2 separate regions of the Homo sapiens genome follow, and region 1 is linked to region 2. A link means that fine-mapping ties the variant in region 2 to the expression of a gene that starts in the linked region. Tissue or cell type: sun-exposed skin. Region 2 holds a variant in brackets; the other region holds the start of a gene. All regions are shown on one strand. Distances are from middle to middle.

What was found. PIP is the estimated chance that this variant, and not a neighbour inherited with it, causes the effect. A credible set is the group of variants that fine-mapping cannot tell apart.
Region 1: PSCA starts here. The variant in region 2 is the best candidate, but not a certain one, in a credible set for the expression of PSCA in sun-exposed skin (GTEx, PIP 0.56).

The regions. Positions count from the first base shown.
Region 1 is chr8:142,676,310-142,683,861 of GRCh38, reverse strand. PSCA (prostate stem cell antigen) reads right to left here and starts at 3,367. Exons shown (of 3, transcript NM_005672.5): 1 at 3,299-3,367; 2 at 2,428-2,535; 3 at 1,137-1,941. The coding sequence starts at 3,323. The coding sequence ends at 1,730. RefSeq lists an enhancer at 1,976-2,622.
Region 2 is chr8:142,014,397-142,021,948 of GRCh38, reverse strand. No RefSeq gene overlaps it. Among named protein-coding and RNA genes, the nearest start is that of MIR4472-1, 160 kb to the left of the region's middle. RefSeq lists enhancers at 164-843, 844-1,525. The variant T/C (reference allele first, on the strand shown) is at 4,547.

The sequences.
Region 1 (7,552 bases), 660 kb before region 2:
AATGGCCTAGCCCTCAACTCTGGACTCAGGCCCTGGGCCAAGGCAGGTCTGAGTGTGCCTTGGGCCTGGGAGGGTGGGTAGGTGTTGGGCAGAGCTCACCATGGAAGCCCAGAGCTCACCATGGAAGCCGGGCAGGCTGGGCTGGGTGTAGGCGAGGCGGGGAGGGTGTGACCAGTGCCCAGGGTCACTCAGATGCTGGCCTGGGGAGCTGCACCCTGCTGACAATGCCACCCTGGGCCCCCAGTGTTCAGGAGGGAGGTCTCCCCGTGAAGTCACATGTCAGACGGGAGGCCTGGCTCTTTCCAGCACAGCTCTGCCCACTGTCTGCTCCATGACCCACCCTCAGAGCTCCAGGCCAGGGTTCCAATCCTGGCTCGGTATGGGATGTGGGCAACAGACCCGTTCCCTTTCCTGAGCCTCTGTCTCCTCTTCTCTGAAACCGCCCCCCGAGCCCCACCCCTAACACCCTTGGAGGCCTCACCCTGAGCAGGTCCCCACCCAGGTCACAGGCTGCACCCCTAGCCCTAGGGCGGGAAGCAGGCTGTGTGCAAAAGGCTTCCCCTGAGCGCAGAAGGCAAGTGTGGATGGTGTCCTCCCACTCAGGGGCCTGGGGATGCTCACGGGGCACAGATTCTCCCAGAAAGAAGCCTCTGGAGGTGTAATGGGCACCCCAGAGAGGGAAGGCGCTGGGGTTCAGGGTTGGGGGAGGCCACCTGTCACCGGGGACCCTGCTGTAGTGTTTGAATGCTGTATGGTGGGTGTGCAGCTCTAAAACAAATTTTGAAAAATGGGGGTGCTCAAATCAGGCCAAGGGGATGGGTAGGAGCTTGAATGGTAGCAGTCCCTCCCCCCGGAACGCTCTCCTTCCTGTGAACTTTCTGGGTCCATCCTCCCAGCAAGGAGGGGTCATAGATGAGTCGCAAGGCTCAGAGAGGTCTGGCCACATGCTCCAGGCAGCACAGCAAGTGCAAGTCCTGGGAACTGCCCTCCCACCCTCTGCAGGGACGTCCTCCTTTCAGGGGCCAAGCTTTGCTCCTGTTAGGGCGGAGGCTGCAGCCCATGTGACCAGGGCCCTGGTCCAGACACAGCCCTGGATCCGGTGCCCGCCTGGGGTGTGCAAGGACAGAGGGTCTCTCTGGCTTATCCAACAGGTGTTTATTAAGGGCCTACGCTGTGCTGAGGCTGCCATTCAGGGAGCCCCACGAATGTGAGGCCTGGCCCCTTCCTCCAGGCCTCCAGGCCCCATCTCTGGAGACTCCCAGGAACTCACGTCGACTCCTGTCCTCCAGTTCTACTCAGTCCACTTCATCTCAGCCTTTACCGGGCCCTCCTGAGTGCCTGTCCCCTGCTGGGTGCGGGGGACACCACGGACCAGACCTGGCTCAAGTCATAGATGGGGTGGGCAGGGAAGGCTTCCTGGGGGAAGAGGTGCCTGAGCACAGGGTTAAGGGTGGAGAATGCTGGGCCATGGAAACAGCAGCAGAGAGGGTTGGAGGGGCCATCTGCAGGCGGATCTGTGTCAATAGAGCCGATCTGCCGGGTGGGAGTCCTGGAGAGGGCCATGGGAGGGTCAGGGTGGGGGACAGGGGCGCAGACATACATGGTCAGACTTGCGTTAGGATGTGCCTCAGGAACCAGGACAGGCTCCCACTGGGCCGGGTGTGTGAGGAGTGGCACAGAGGCCTGGGGCACCACACCCAGTGTGGGCTGCAGCGGGGCCCCCCAGAGCCTAGAGCTGGCCGGGTCCCCAGAGCAGCAGGCCGAGTGCAGGGAGCAGCGCAAGGATGGCAGCAGCCGGCTGCAGGGCATGGGCCCCGCTGGCGTTGCACAAGTCGGTGTCACAGCACGTGATGTTCTTCTTGCCCACGTAGTAGTCCTGTGAGTCATCCACGCAGTTCAAGCTGCAGCCTTTGCTGATGACGGTCAGGAGGCCAACTGCGCCTGGGGAGCAGCGGGATCCGGGGATGGGGCTGCCCTGTGTGCTCACCTGCCTGACCTGCCCCAGGCCTCCTCCTGTCCCACCCTGCCTAATGCTCTAGAGTCCCCCTGGGCTGGCCTCAGGATTGCAAGCAGTGCGAGGGCCTGGTCTCGGCCCTGGTCTCAGCCCTATCCAGATGTCCGAGGCAGATGGACCACCCGCTGAGCGTCAGAAATGGGGTGAGTGAGTAAGTGAGCTCAGGGATGGGGAGGGACAGATGGGTGGAGGAGTGGAAGATGGAGGATGGGGAGGGACAGATGAGTGGAGGAGTGGCAGATGGAGGAGGATGGCTGGAGGGACAGATGCTGGGTGATTGTTGGGGGTGCAGGTGCGGGACGGGTCGGGGACAGGTGGAAGGAAAACAGCACACAGATGCGGACAGATGGCCAGAAAGATTAATAGTTCAGTGGCAGAGACCTAGGCCTGGCGGCTGTCGTCCCCCCACTCACGGATGCGCGCGGTCCAGCACTGCTCCCCCAGCTGGGTGCAGTTCTCCACCTGCAGGCAGTCCTCGTTGCTCACCTGGGCTTTGCAGGAGTAGCACAGCAGGGCAGTGCCTGTGGGGTGGAGTGGGAGGGGCCTCAGAGGCTGCCCCATAGCACTCCCCAGGAATGGGGGCTCCCAGGCAGGTGGGCCTCCATGGCGGTGGCCTGAGGAAGTCCTCGGCGCCCTCTTGTCACCCTCAATGTCTCCTCCCCATCTTCACGGCCCCCTGCTCAGTGCCTCCGAAATGTTGCCCTGTTTAGTCCCTCGGTGGCTGCTTTTGTGACCGTGTGTTTCAGAAGAGGAAGCTGCGGCTGTGGGGGTGACTGAACCCGGGACCCTGGGTCGGGAGGGTCCCACCTCAAGCAGAGCAGCTCCCTGGGACCCTTGGAAGCTGCAGTGCTGGGACTGGGCCGGATGTAGACCCCCGGGTCCTCGCAGGACACCCCCAGCACCTCCCCCTTGTGCCCCAAAAACCACTTCTTAGCCTGAGGCTTCCTGTCCCATGTCTCCCAGCTCCTCATCAGCATCTCTGCCCATCCATCCGTCAGTCTGTCTACCTGCCCCCTAGGAGCCAGGCCCTGCCCCACGGTGGTGAAGGAGAGTGACTCCGTGCTGCCCCTGCAAGCCCCGGTCACAGGGGACGGCAGGGAACAGGTCGCTGCCTGGTCGTGCCAAGAGCTTCCCTGGAGGAGCGGAGGCTAGGGCAAGAGCCTCACCCCCTTCCTCTCCCTTCCTCCTTCCTTCCCCTCCTCTCCGTGTGCCCTGCAGGTATCCCTCTGGCCTCCCCGGCTCACCCCTGCTCCCTTCCCTGCTGGGGGCCAGCCAAGGCCTCACCTGGCTGCAGGGCCAAGCCTGCCATCAACAGGGCAAGCAGCACAGCCTTCGTGGTCACTGGTGGGCTGTGGTGGAGAGGGCCTCAGGTGACTTTATATGGCCTCAAATGGGGAGAGGCTGGACTGCCCACAGTCAACACCAGCGGGTTTCCTGGAGCCAGTGAGGGCCCCGGGGCTGGGCAGGTCCGAGTCTCCTCCCTGAGCGACCTGCACCTCCCTCTCCCTTTGTCCTTCTTTCCACCTCTGGAGGACAGAGCCTACCCAGGGCCATATCTCAGCCACCCCGGGCTGAGGGCTGAAACGTCCTCAAGACCCAGATTATGCCTCTCCCACCTCCCCCACCTCACAGTGCAAGGCCAGACAAGGGAGACCCTTTCTCCAGACTCCTCCAGGCCTCGGCCTTCCAGCCAAGGATGAGGGCACCTCCCTGGGCCCTGTGCTCCTATAGAAGCTGTGCCGCCCTCTGGGGCCCACGGCCCGCAGGGTGATGAGCCTTGGTCACAGCGTCACTGACAGATCATTAGCAGGTGCTGCAAAGGACAGGGGCAGGGGCTGTTCCGGTATAAACCAAAAGTAACATTCTAAGGCCCCCCAGCCATCTGAGTGGAACCCTCCTCTTGGCAAGGGCTTTCCGAAGTTAACCTGAAAAACTGGTTCAGGCCATGACAGCAAAGGGTTGGATAGCCTCATTATCCCTCCTCCCTTCAGAACTCTGGAACAGCCAGCGTTAACATCAACACAGGCCTTCAGTCTGATGAGAAACATTTACCATCTATTGTCTCGGAAGCCTGCTACCTGGAGGCTTCATCTGATGATAAAGCCTTGGTCTCCACAACCCCGTATAACCCAGACATTCCTTTCTATTGATAACTCTTGCAAGCGATTGCCAACCAGAAGATGTTTAAATCCACCTATAACCTGGAAGCCCCCAGTTCCAGCTGCCCACCTTTCTGGACTAAACCAATGTATATCTTCAATATATTTGATTGATGTCTCATGTCTCCCTAAAATGGGTACCATCAAGCTGTGCACTGACCACCTTGGGCACATGTTCTCAGGGTCTCCTGGGGGCTGTGTCACAGGCCATGGTCCCTCATATTTGGCTCAGAATAAATGTCTTCAAATATTTTACAGAGTTTGGCTCTTGTTGACACAGGGGACAGCCTCCCTGGGGAGGAGACCCTGTTGGACGGGCCTTCATTTATGGGGCATTCAGTGTGGGCTGAGCCCTGGGCTAGGTGCTTTACCCTCAGGACCTTGAGTGACCCCCTCAGCTTGGAACTTTAGCTGCAAACGAGTCGGGGAAGTGCAGCTTTTAGCAGCCTCTGCAGTAGCAGGAGGCAGCGGCTAGGCCCAGGGCTGTATGGCCTCTGTTTGCCCCAGATCCCCTCTCCGTCCTGCTCCATGTCCTGGGAGGCTGGTCCAGCTCCCACAGGCAGGAGATGAGAGAGTGGAAGAGGCAAGTTCAGGCCAGCTCTCCTGCCAGTCAGCTGGGAGGTGGTGGCAGTGGCTATGGCCCTCTAGAGCAGGCCCAGCCCGCTGGGCGGTGGTGGCAGTGGCTATGGCCCTCTAGAGCAGGCCCAAGCTCTCATGCCAGTCAGCTGGGCGGTGGGTGGTGGCAGCGGCTATGGCCCTCTAGAGCAGGCCCAGGCTCTCATGCCAGCTGGCTAAGTGTTGGTGGCAGTAGCTATGGTCCTCTAGTACAGGCCTAGGCTCTCCTGCCAGCCGGCTGAGTGTTGGTGGCAGTAGCTATGGTCCTCTAGAGCAGGCCCAGGCTCTCCTGCCAGCCAGCTGGGTGGTGGTAGCAGTGGCTAGGACCCTCTAGAGCAGGCCCAAGCTCTGCTGCCAGTGGCTGGGTGGTGGTGGCAGTGGCTATGGCCCTCTAGAGCAGGCCCAGGCTCTCCTGCCAGTGGCTGGGTGGTGGTGGCAGTGGCTATGGCCCTCTAGAGAAGGCCCAGGTCCCGTCAGCCAGGCTTCTCCTGTCCCCCGGGTTCTGGCCAGCCTCTGGTCACTGTGCTCTCCCCCTCATCCCTGCAAGCCCGAGGGGCTGGTGGCTTCCTGCTGCTGGCTGGCTTTGAGGGGGACTTGTGGCCGCTGCTGTCTCCTTCAACCTGACCCCTGCCTTTGTACATGGACCCTGAGTTAGATAACTCTGCCTGGCAACCCTCTTGGGTATGCTGTTGTTCCTGCCGGAAGCTGGTAGGTCCACTGTGGTCCGTGGCCCTGCCTGCTGCCGAGTGTGTGTCTGGAGGGAGACCGGCCCCTTCTCCCCTGACGCTCTCTCGTCCCCGCTGATGGTTGTCCGGCCTTCATTGTTACCTCCTCTCCTCGATTTTGCCCCTGAAAAGGCTCTGGCACATTTTAGGGGGTGGTGAGGATGTTGCAGTCAGGAAAAGTCTCGGGGAATCGGACCCTCTCCCAGCAGGTCTGCACCGTCCAGGAAGGCCTGCACCGTCCAGGAAGGCTGGTAGATGTTTCTGGGGTGTTCAGGGGACATCAGCTTCCCACTGTCTCACCTTGAGTCTGGGATCAAGGTGACACTACTGATGGGGGCAGGGACGATGCAAGACCCGACCTCCCTGGGACTCAGTGGCACCAGGAATCTGCCTTTGGGCTTCCCCCGGGGCTCCAGGTCAGCCCCTGTCCTTCTGAGGTCTCTCCTGCCTGCCTCCCTGGAACCCACTGGGTTGGGCTCTTTTCCATGGAAATTGTCTCTTCTCTGGCAAGTGAGGAGCCTGAGCCCAAGAGGGACAGGAACTTACTGGAGGCCATGCAGGGTGACTGCAGCCTCCCCCAGACTCCTTGCTTGCCCACTCTGCCCACCCAGAACTTTCCCTCTGGACACGCCCTCCAGCCCATGTCCTGTAAGCTCAGGACAAGGGGCCTCATACAGTCATGAACTGCTTCCGTGTGTGGCTGACAGCCCCTGTCCCATCCTCCCTCCGCCCCCCGCCCCAGCTCGCCCGGACTCTGGCCACTCCCGCACAAGACGTTTTCTTATCTGTCTCTGTGTTCAAGGTGCCAGCCTGGAACTTTCCGTCCTCAAATATTTATAGGTGTGTAAGTGTTTGTTGATCTGATTTGATACACAGTGATTGCTGTAAGGCAGTGGTTCTCACGTGGGTGACTCTGCACCGCCAGGGAATGTTTGGTGATGTCTGGAGGCATCTCTGCTTATTCCAGCTCAGGGGTGCTGCTGGCCTCTAGTGGGTGCAGGCCAAGGAGGGGGCAACACACAGGATCCCCACCACAGAATCCGCAGCCCCAGCATCCGCCGCACTGAGGGTGTGGCTGGTCTGAGGATGGCCCCGTGGTCATGGCTCCTATACGGAAGACCATGGCTGTGACATTCCTAGAGCCCCACCCCTGACCACAGGTTGGGTTCTGACCTCACCCCAAAACTGAGCCCTCACTGTGGTCAGTCTGAACTCTAATCCTGGTTACCTAACGAGCCCTGGTTACGGCCCCACCCTGAGCCCTGGCCCTGGCCACTGGCTGAGCCCTGATCCTGGTCACAGAATGAACCCTGACTGTGGTCACCCTCTGATTTTTGACCCTGGTCACAGGCGAATCCCTGTCCCCTGTCATTCACACTTTGGCCATACACTGAATGCAGCCCCTGAGCCTAAACTGAGCCTGGATCTTCTGGCAGTTCTCCTTTCTGGGAAGTTCTGCCACAAGGGGCATGGCTTCCTGCAGATCCTCATCCGGTGGACAGGGGCTGAGAGGCTGATGTGAGTGATAATAAAACTCCAGTCTCCCGGTCAGCTGGCTCTGTGTGAATTAAACTCTTTCTCTATTGTGATTCCCCTGTCTTGATAAATCGGCTGTATCTTGCCAGGGGTCAAAATGAACCCCCTGGGTGATCACACACTAGTGTATTTTCTTCCTTCTCTTCCTCTCTTTCTGATCCCTCCCCAGTGCCAGAATGGACTTGGTCTTTGAGAAGAGATCCAAGGTTCCCTGAGTAATGGTAGGAGCACCTGGGGGAGCCCCATGCATCTTGGGGATCAGGCCCCAGTTCCGACCCCAGTTCCATGCCAATCTCCACTCCCCACCAGCAGCACCCAAGTCCTGGGAGACCAAGTGATCCCGTCCCTGAGGTGGTAAGCAGTCACACCAGGGATGGAACCAGCCTTCCTGTCCCAGGAGACCCTGCCTTGGGAACCCCCATCCAGCGGCCCTGGGTTCTAGTCCCACCATGTGCCTGGTATGCCCCATGACTAAGCGTCCTCCACTGTGAAACATCTGACTC
Region 2 (7,552 bases):
GTGCGCATTCATATTTGATGCTCAAAGATAAATGACAGTTGGCTGTAGCACTTTGGGACCACCAAGATGCAGAAGGTAGCTGAAGCCAGGCTAGTGTGGAGCCTTAAGAGAGCGGCTGAGGTGGACCCCTGTTCTACAGGGCCAGTTCCACTCCGCACACTTCACACTCATGCACACACATGCATACTCCCATTCACACACATGCACCCACAGACATGTGTGCACCTGCATGCCCACATGTACATACACACAATGTCCTGTGCCACTGTGGACACCTGGAATGGTTCAGCCACTACAGACTGCACCCTGGAGTCATCTGTTGAGGATCCAGCCCAGCAGCCCATGGAAGCCATTTTGGCTGGTGCTTCAGCCTCAGCCCCTCCTTTCTTCCGGGTCGCACCAGCAGAGTCCCAGTGCAGCTCATAGTGGCTGTGGGCAACCTCAGCTTCCCCTTTTGTCTTATGTCTGGGCAGGAACTGGTGGCCCAGTGGCTAAAGTCTGGTGGCCACTGCCCCCTCAAGTGCTGGGTTCTAGGGACTGTGGCGATGTGTTCGTGGATGGTAGAAGGACGTCGGTAGGCGATGCTGGGGTGGTCCCAGCACATGCCCCACTGCCCAGAAAGCACGGCGCTGCCATTGCCCCCTGGCTGCTCCTGAGGACAGATGCAAGGCCCAGACCCTTCCCTGGGGACCCCCAGGACTGAACAACCCTCTTGGGCCTCACTCCAGCCCAGCAAATGACACCTCACAGCTGAGCCATTCACCTCTGATCAAAGCCTCCTCATTTGAGTGACTGGTGGTTGATGGTCACCTTGGCGTTCAGCACAGCTGGGGGACATCAGCCCACATGGCTGTCAGGGAGGGAAGAGGGTGTGAACCCTGAGGCCGGGGCTGATTCCCCTCGCCACCTGGCCTGAGCCGGACAGGATGGCTTCTGAACAGAAAGATGAGAGGAGCTGCAGGACCTGCCATCTGTGCCCAGTCCCCAAAAGGGCTGACAGGTTTCGGGAAGGGTGCAGAGGAGCCGCAGCCCCAGGCATCCTCCTTGACAAAGATGAGCAAGAAAGGAAGTGCAGGTGCAGCAGCGGCAGCAGTGCCCGCCTGTGAGCAGCCAGCACGGGCCACGCAGGAACCCACATCAGCTGGCAAGGGCCCGGCCTCTCCTGTCCCTGGGGGAGCCAGCAGCTGGGAAAGAACCCACCAGGTGCATGGTGAGGCAGGTAATGAAGGAGCCACCAGCCCCAGTGGCTGCCAGGCAGTGATTGTTTGGCCTGGCAGGGGAGAGAGCAGCCCACAGAGGGGGTGCCCCTGGGTCAGGGAATTTGCATCTCAAAGAGGCAATGGAAAGAGCCATCAGCAGTCCCTCCTCCAGGAGAACTGCTATTCCCAGAGGAAGGCAGAGAGGAGCAGAAGCACATTCCAAGCACAGAGAATGCGGTCAGCCTGGAGCTGTGTGAGGTCAGCCTGGAGCTGTATGAGGGGTGTTTCCTGCAGCTAGCTGACCTTCCTGCGGCTGCCCTGCCTCATAGGCCAGCCCATGGTACCCCTCACCTCCCCACAGCTCCCAGGTGCTGAGCCCAGCCTTGCCCCTGGACGCCCCCTCTTCCTGTCCCAACAGTGGCTGAGGAGGCTGAGGGGTGGCGGGCTGTGCCCATGGTGAGTGTAGCTGACTGGAACCACTTTCCTCTCCTGGGCTCCCTGCCCTCCGTGGCCTCCAGGCCTCTGTCCTCTGTCCCTGCTCCCAGGAGCTCACCAAGTCTCTCTTGGGGCCCAGGTGCCAGTTGGTGCTCCCCAGAGCAGGGCTCTCCTGGCCTCTAGGGTCTTAGTGCCTCTACGTGGTGACAGTCACCGAGTCCATGTGTGAGCAGGCTGCTCACTTGGTAGCCAGCAGCTTCGATGAGACACCAAACCCCATGCCCCGGCCCCGAGGGGAGGCTCATTTAGAAACCCTCACTGAGCACTGCCCTGTGCCAGCGACTGCGCCAGGTCCTCAGAACACAAGGGTGTGGACTCCAGGCAGCAGGGCGCACTAGGGTCATCTCTGAATGCAGACGTTCCCCCGAACACGGAACTTGAGACAAGGGTTTGTACGGGAGCCCTTTGCTTCGGCAAGTGATTTCAGACGCTCAGGAATCAGGGTGCAGGCAGGGTGAGGCAGAACGAGACAGGGTGCTTGGTCCTACAAGGCTGTGGCCTCAAACAGGCCACTGTAGTGGCCACCTGGGGCTCAAGCCCACGGGATGCCCTAGGAGCCGCATGGCGTGTGCCATAGAATTGTGCACCCAGACATGGAAGACCCACCAGGCTCCACCCTCATGGGCCAACGGCTGCCCCACTCCCTTGCACATCCAGGCTATGTGCCTGAGTGCTGAGCGGGCACCCTCAGGTATCCTGGGCTGCACCCTCAGCCTCTGGGACACCAAGGGCAAGGGGGTAGTTGAGGAGTGGGCCTGCCTGCAGGGAATACTGCATGATGCTGGAGCCCAGCAGGAGGATCAGGAGCACGGCAGGGACTTTCTCGGCTCCCACGGATGCATCTCTGCCCAGCCAGCCTCAGACCAGCGCCCCTCACTCGGTTCAGTGGGTCAAAGTTCCCACCTGCTCCTCAGGCCTGAGGGAGGTGCCCAAGTCAGAGGAGGCACCAATTAGCCCAGAGAGCAGACTCCATGTTTTCCTTCCACCAGGGCCGGATGTCTGGGCTCGGAGCAGCCCCCCGATAGTGCTTTCTCCCTGAGTCTCCGAGTGCACGAGGCAACTGTGAGAGGGCTGTGGGAAAGTGCATGCTCAGGACCTCTGTGAGCATAATTGATGCGATTGCCTCTCAGACTTGCACGGTAAGTGCTTTGGAAATGCTGGCTGGAGCAGGAACTCTGGGGTGGGGAAGCCGCTCAGCTGGGAGTAGAGAACTCAGGGTGCACCCAAACTCACTTTGCCACATTTAGCAGTTTGCTCCAGCTCTCTGGCAGAAAGTTCCTGAACTGTCACCTGAATGGGGGCGTAGGGGGGTGGGGTCTTGTGATGTGAATGTCCGTGTCCCCCTGCAAATGTATGTGTTAAAACCCTAAGTCCCAGTGTGGCTGTATTTGGAGATAGGGACTCTAAGGAAGCAACTAATCCTAAATGGGGTTATCAGGGAGGGACACTGACCTTATAAGAAGAGACACCTGAGGTGCCCTCTCTCCTCCCTGCATGCGTGCACTGAGGAAGGCCACGTGAAGATGCACCCAGAAGGCGGCCGCCCATCACCCGAGGAGAGAGCCCTGCGGGTGGATGCCCTGACCTTAAACTTGCACTCACCAGAGCTGTGAGAGTTAAGTATCCACCGTTTAAGCCACCTCGTCTGTGGTATTTTGCTGTGGCAGCCCACGCTGACTATTACAGAGAGGATGGGATGTTTCTGAGCCACCGATTCTACAACTCTCTAGGGACTTTGCTTAATCGGCTGTAGCAGGGAAGGTTAATGGGAGAGGTTACTGAGTGCTGGGATGGGAATGGACATGTGAGCTCCTTCCGCTTGAGCGCCTGTGTGGGCAAGGAGCAGCCAGGGCGCTGTCCCAAGGGCCTGAGCATGGGGCTCCTGCATGAGGCAGGGTGGGGCAGAGACCCAGAGGCCACCCGAGTCAGAATCTCTAGGGAAATTCACACCCCGTGGAGAGTGAGCCCCAACAGTAGGATGGGGAGGACAAGCAGCGGGAGGGGGGACGGGGCCACAGAGTTTGGAGGACATGGGTTCAGAGCAAGCCCCAGAAGCATGAGTGACAGGGGGCTCTGGTGGTTACTATGACCCTCAGGAGATGGGGATGGGCCATGCCTGATGCTCAGGGTCACCTGGTGGGCCTGTGAGACAGTGTCAGGAAGGAGGTTGACAGCCCTCGCGAGGGCAAGAAGAGGCAGGCAGGGCCTGGGGTGGGGGCCCAGCCCATCCTTGGCACAGCAGTAGCCATGGAGGGCAGCTGGGGTGGGGACGGCCGGTGCTGGGGCAAAACAAGAGGCCCCAGATCTGAGTGGAGTGTGGGCACCTGAGGTCCCCCAGGAGCGGTGCTCAGTAGGTGTGGTTAGGGCCACTGGGAGGAAGTACCCCGGCCCCTGTCCTGGAGCGGCCTGAGGAGCAATTCTCCAGGGCACACTGAGGCACTGCCATTACCTAGACAGACGATAGTGGACCTCCTGCTGGCAGTTAAGGTCAGTGCTGGCCCCTTTCCACGTCCTGGTTCAGTGCTGCTAAGGCATTTGGGGGCAGAGGTGTGTCCAGAATCCACCCCAGGTCACCCCTGGCCTCTGAGCATGGGGCCCCTGAGCAGGGAGGCCTTCATGGAAAGTCGTGGGATGTGGGGAGAGGGACTGACCCCTTGTGCTCCACCCCCAGCTCATCCAACCCCAGTGCAGCCTGGAGACTGCCACCGTGCCCCCCGGAGGGCGATGGAGCCTCCGCTCTGCTCAGGAGCAGCCTGGCTTCCGGGAGGGCAGCCTGACTCCCACGGCACTGCCGGTGACCCCTCAGCTCAGGCCCCGGGGCTGCGAGAATCTCAAGTGTGCATTCTGTGAAG[T/C]GTGCATTCTGTGACGTGTGCATTCTGTGAGGGCTTCGTGGCTTCTTCCTGGGTGTGTGCTGTCCTGGCTCTGGTGGGGCCACTGGTTGGGCAGGTTCAGGTCTGCAGAGCCTGCCCTGGAGAGAACCCCTTCTCCGGCTCTGGGGGAGCACTCACGCTGCCACCTGTGTCCCTGTGGCGGCCCCTTGCCTGCCTGCATTTGGCTGGCCTGGCCCGACACCTTCCTGCCCCTGGCCCATGTGCCTGCTCCGAGTCCCTCCTGCCACATGGGACCCGGGCAGGCCTGGGCAGCCCCGAGGGCCAGCTGTGCCAAGCGAGGATGCCACCCTGGTTCCAGGGAGCAGCAGTGCCATCAGAGAAGGCCCTGCAGGCTGTCGGCCCCCCGGGTCACAGCAGCTTGTTCTGGCAGCCCCTCCTCCCCCGGGGCCCTTGTTCTCCTCCCTGGCTCTTGGCCTATCCTCAGGCCATGCCAGTTGCGTCTGTCCCCACGGCCAGTGCCCTTCCTGAGCCCTACACACCTCGCCCAAGAGCCTCAAGTCTTTCCATGGAAGTCTGAACCCGAAGGCAAAAGCACTTGGAGGTGGTTCCCAGAAGGCGCCTTCATGAGTGAACGGAGGGTAGGGATGGTCCCAGGTGCTCTGTCTCCCAACATCACCAACGTCCCCTCATCCCTGGGGCCCATGAGCCAGGACGCAGCCCCACCCTGGTCTGTGCCCCTCGGTCCTGGAGTAGGCTCTTGTGTCTCTGATGATTTAGGGCAGGCAAGCTTGGCTGTCAGAGCTGGGAGAGACTGTGGGGCCATTGGCCCCTGCTTTGTGAAGATGAGGAAGTGAGACCCAGGGAGAAGGGACTAATGTGTCTGATGGTCACAGAGCAAATTTTTGGCAGTGTCAACCACAGGGCCTGGTTATCCTTCTTTCTGGTGTAGTCAGAGAGGCCTGGAGGAGGACGGAGCTGCCTGCCTGGAGGCTGGACTCTGGCCATGTGCAGCCTGGGATGTGGCAGGATGGGGCAGGGGCCTCAGGGCTTGTTTTGCGCCCTGGCTAGTGGGACATGGGGCTGGGCGAGCATATGCCTGCCGCAGTGTGTGACAGCTGTCAGCTGTCCAGAGAGCCGGCGGAGACGGGCCTGGGGCTGGGAGCCTGCGCCAGTTGCCATTTAAACCTTGGCAGTCGGAGAGCCCCTCGATGCCAAAGGCCCGCGGTGAAGGAGGCGGTAGTGGTGGCGAGTGCCCACTGCCTCCCACACAGCCAGGCCCAGCACGCAGGGAGAGGCGCCCTCCCTGGACCAGCTCTCCTTGTCTGTGTGGGAACATAGGGCGGCGCTCTGAGGGCTGGGCCTGACAGAGGCAGGAGGTGGCGACTGGAGGGGTGCTTGCCGGGGAGGTGAGGCATGGATGTCCCTGAGGACGGTGCGTCCGGGCAGGCAGTGGGCAAGGCTGGCCATGCCATGTTCCCCAGCAGGCTAGAGCAGCTGGGATGCACTGGGTGCCTGAGGATGGCGCTGGATCACTCCCTGTCTCCTGATGTGTGCAGGGCAGCCGAATGGGCTTCCAGGAAGCCAACTCCAGCCCCTGCAGCAGGCCTCAGGCGGCTTCTCCCAGGCATCTTGAGCCTGGCTTCACACCCCTCCTCTAAGGCACATTCTCCTTTAATCCCAAGGTCCTGTGAAGTAGGAATGAATTCTTTCTCTTGCTTTTCCAATAACCCAACTGAGGCCCAAGAGGTGGAATGGCCTGTCCAGGGTTACACAGCAGGCGGCCTGGCCCTGGGACCAGATGCCCAGCCTCCTGACCCTCAGGCCTCCTGACTGGGGGCTCCCCGGCCTGGGAGGGAGGGCTGTGCACACTCAAGACCCTGAGTCGCCTGTGACCCCAAAACACAGACAGCAAGGGCTCCCAGTGCCTGCACTGTGGTAAAACGAGCCCAGAATGGAGGCAGAAGCACCTGGATTCCACAAGAGCTTCGCCTGGCGCTCTGCGCCGTCAGAAGCCCCTGCACCGGGGCCAGTTCTTGCCCTCGCCTGTAGACAGGAACACTGCTTCTGGCCTTCCAGCAAGAGACTCCAAAGACTTTCCCGGTGTCTCCATGTGTCCTGCTCCTCCTCAGAGGATGCCTGAGAATTCTTGAGGTGGGGAAAGAAAACACAAAGAGGACCGGGGCTGGGGGGTGTCCCTGGCCACGCCCCCCACTGCCATTTGCTGATGGGTGAGGTGCCTTTGTCAGACATCAGGATGAGGCTCCTTTGTCAGGGATCAGTACCATTTGTGATGAGCCCAGGACTGTCAGTCTCCCGTCCCAGGACAGTCTTGCAGGGGGAGCGTCCCTGATAGGAGGGTGGCGGGAGGCGGAGCATCTAGCCCTGCGGTGGTCCTAGCTTCTATCTCAACAGCCCGCCCAGCCCTGGACCCCAGCCCTGCCTATTTGCCATCCATCCACGGAAGGCTTGGGATGCCACTGTTTCAGCATGTCCTGGGGAGAGGCTGGGCAGCCCCGGGACTCTGGCAGCAGCAGGGTGTGAGCAGAGCATCGGGGAGCCGGGCACACTCGGGCTCCAAGGCCAGGCTCTCCCCTTTGCAGTTGGCCACTCGGGAAACCCACTGTGCCTGAAGCCTAAGAATTCCTACATGGCAGGGGCCTTGGAGTCAGTCGCTCACTCCCTCACCCGTTCCTTCATTGCGTGAATGAGTACGGTGCCTGGCACGGTCCTAGTTGCTGGGTTCTGATGGTGAAGCATCTGGACGTCCCTGCGGCTGACCGTTCACGGAGACACAGACAGGAGCAGGCAGCAGACGGGGCCGTGGCACCCGGGGGAGGGTGGCTCATAGCACTTGGGGGACCGAGGCTTCTCGGATCCCTGGGATGATAGCTGGGCATTAGCCAATGAGGGAGGCCAAAAGATGGGGAAGGGCCCTGGAAGAGGGGGTGGCCTGGGAGGAGGCCAGGGTCTGAGCAGCAACAGGGCCACAGGAAGCAGAAGCAGTTGAGTGAAGGCAAAGAGTAGGTC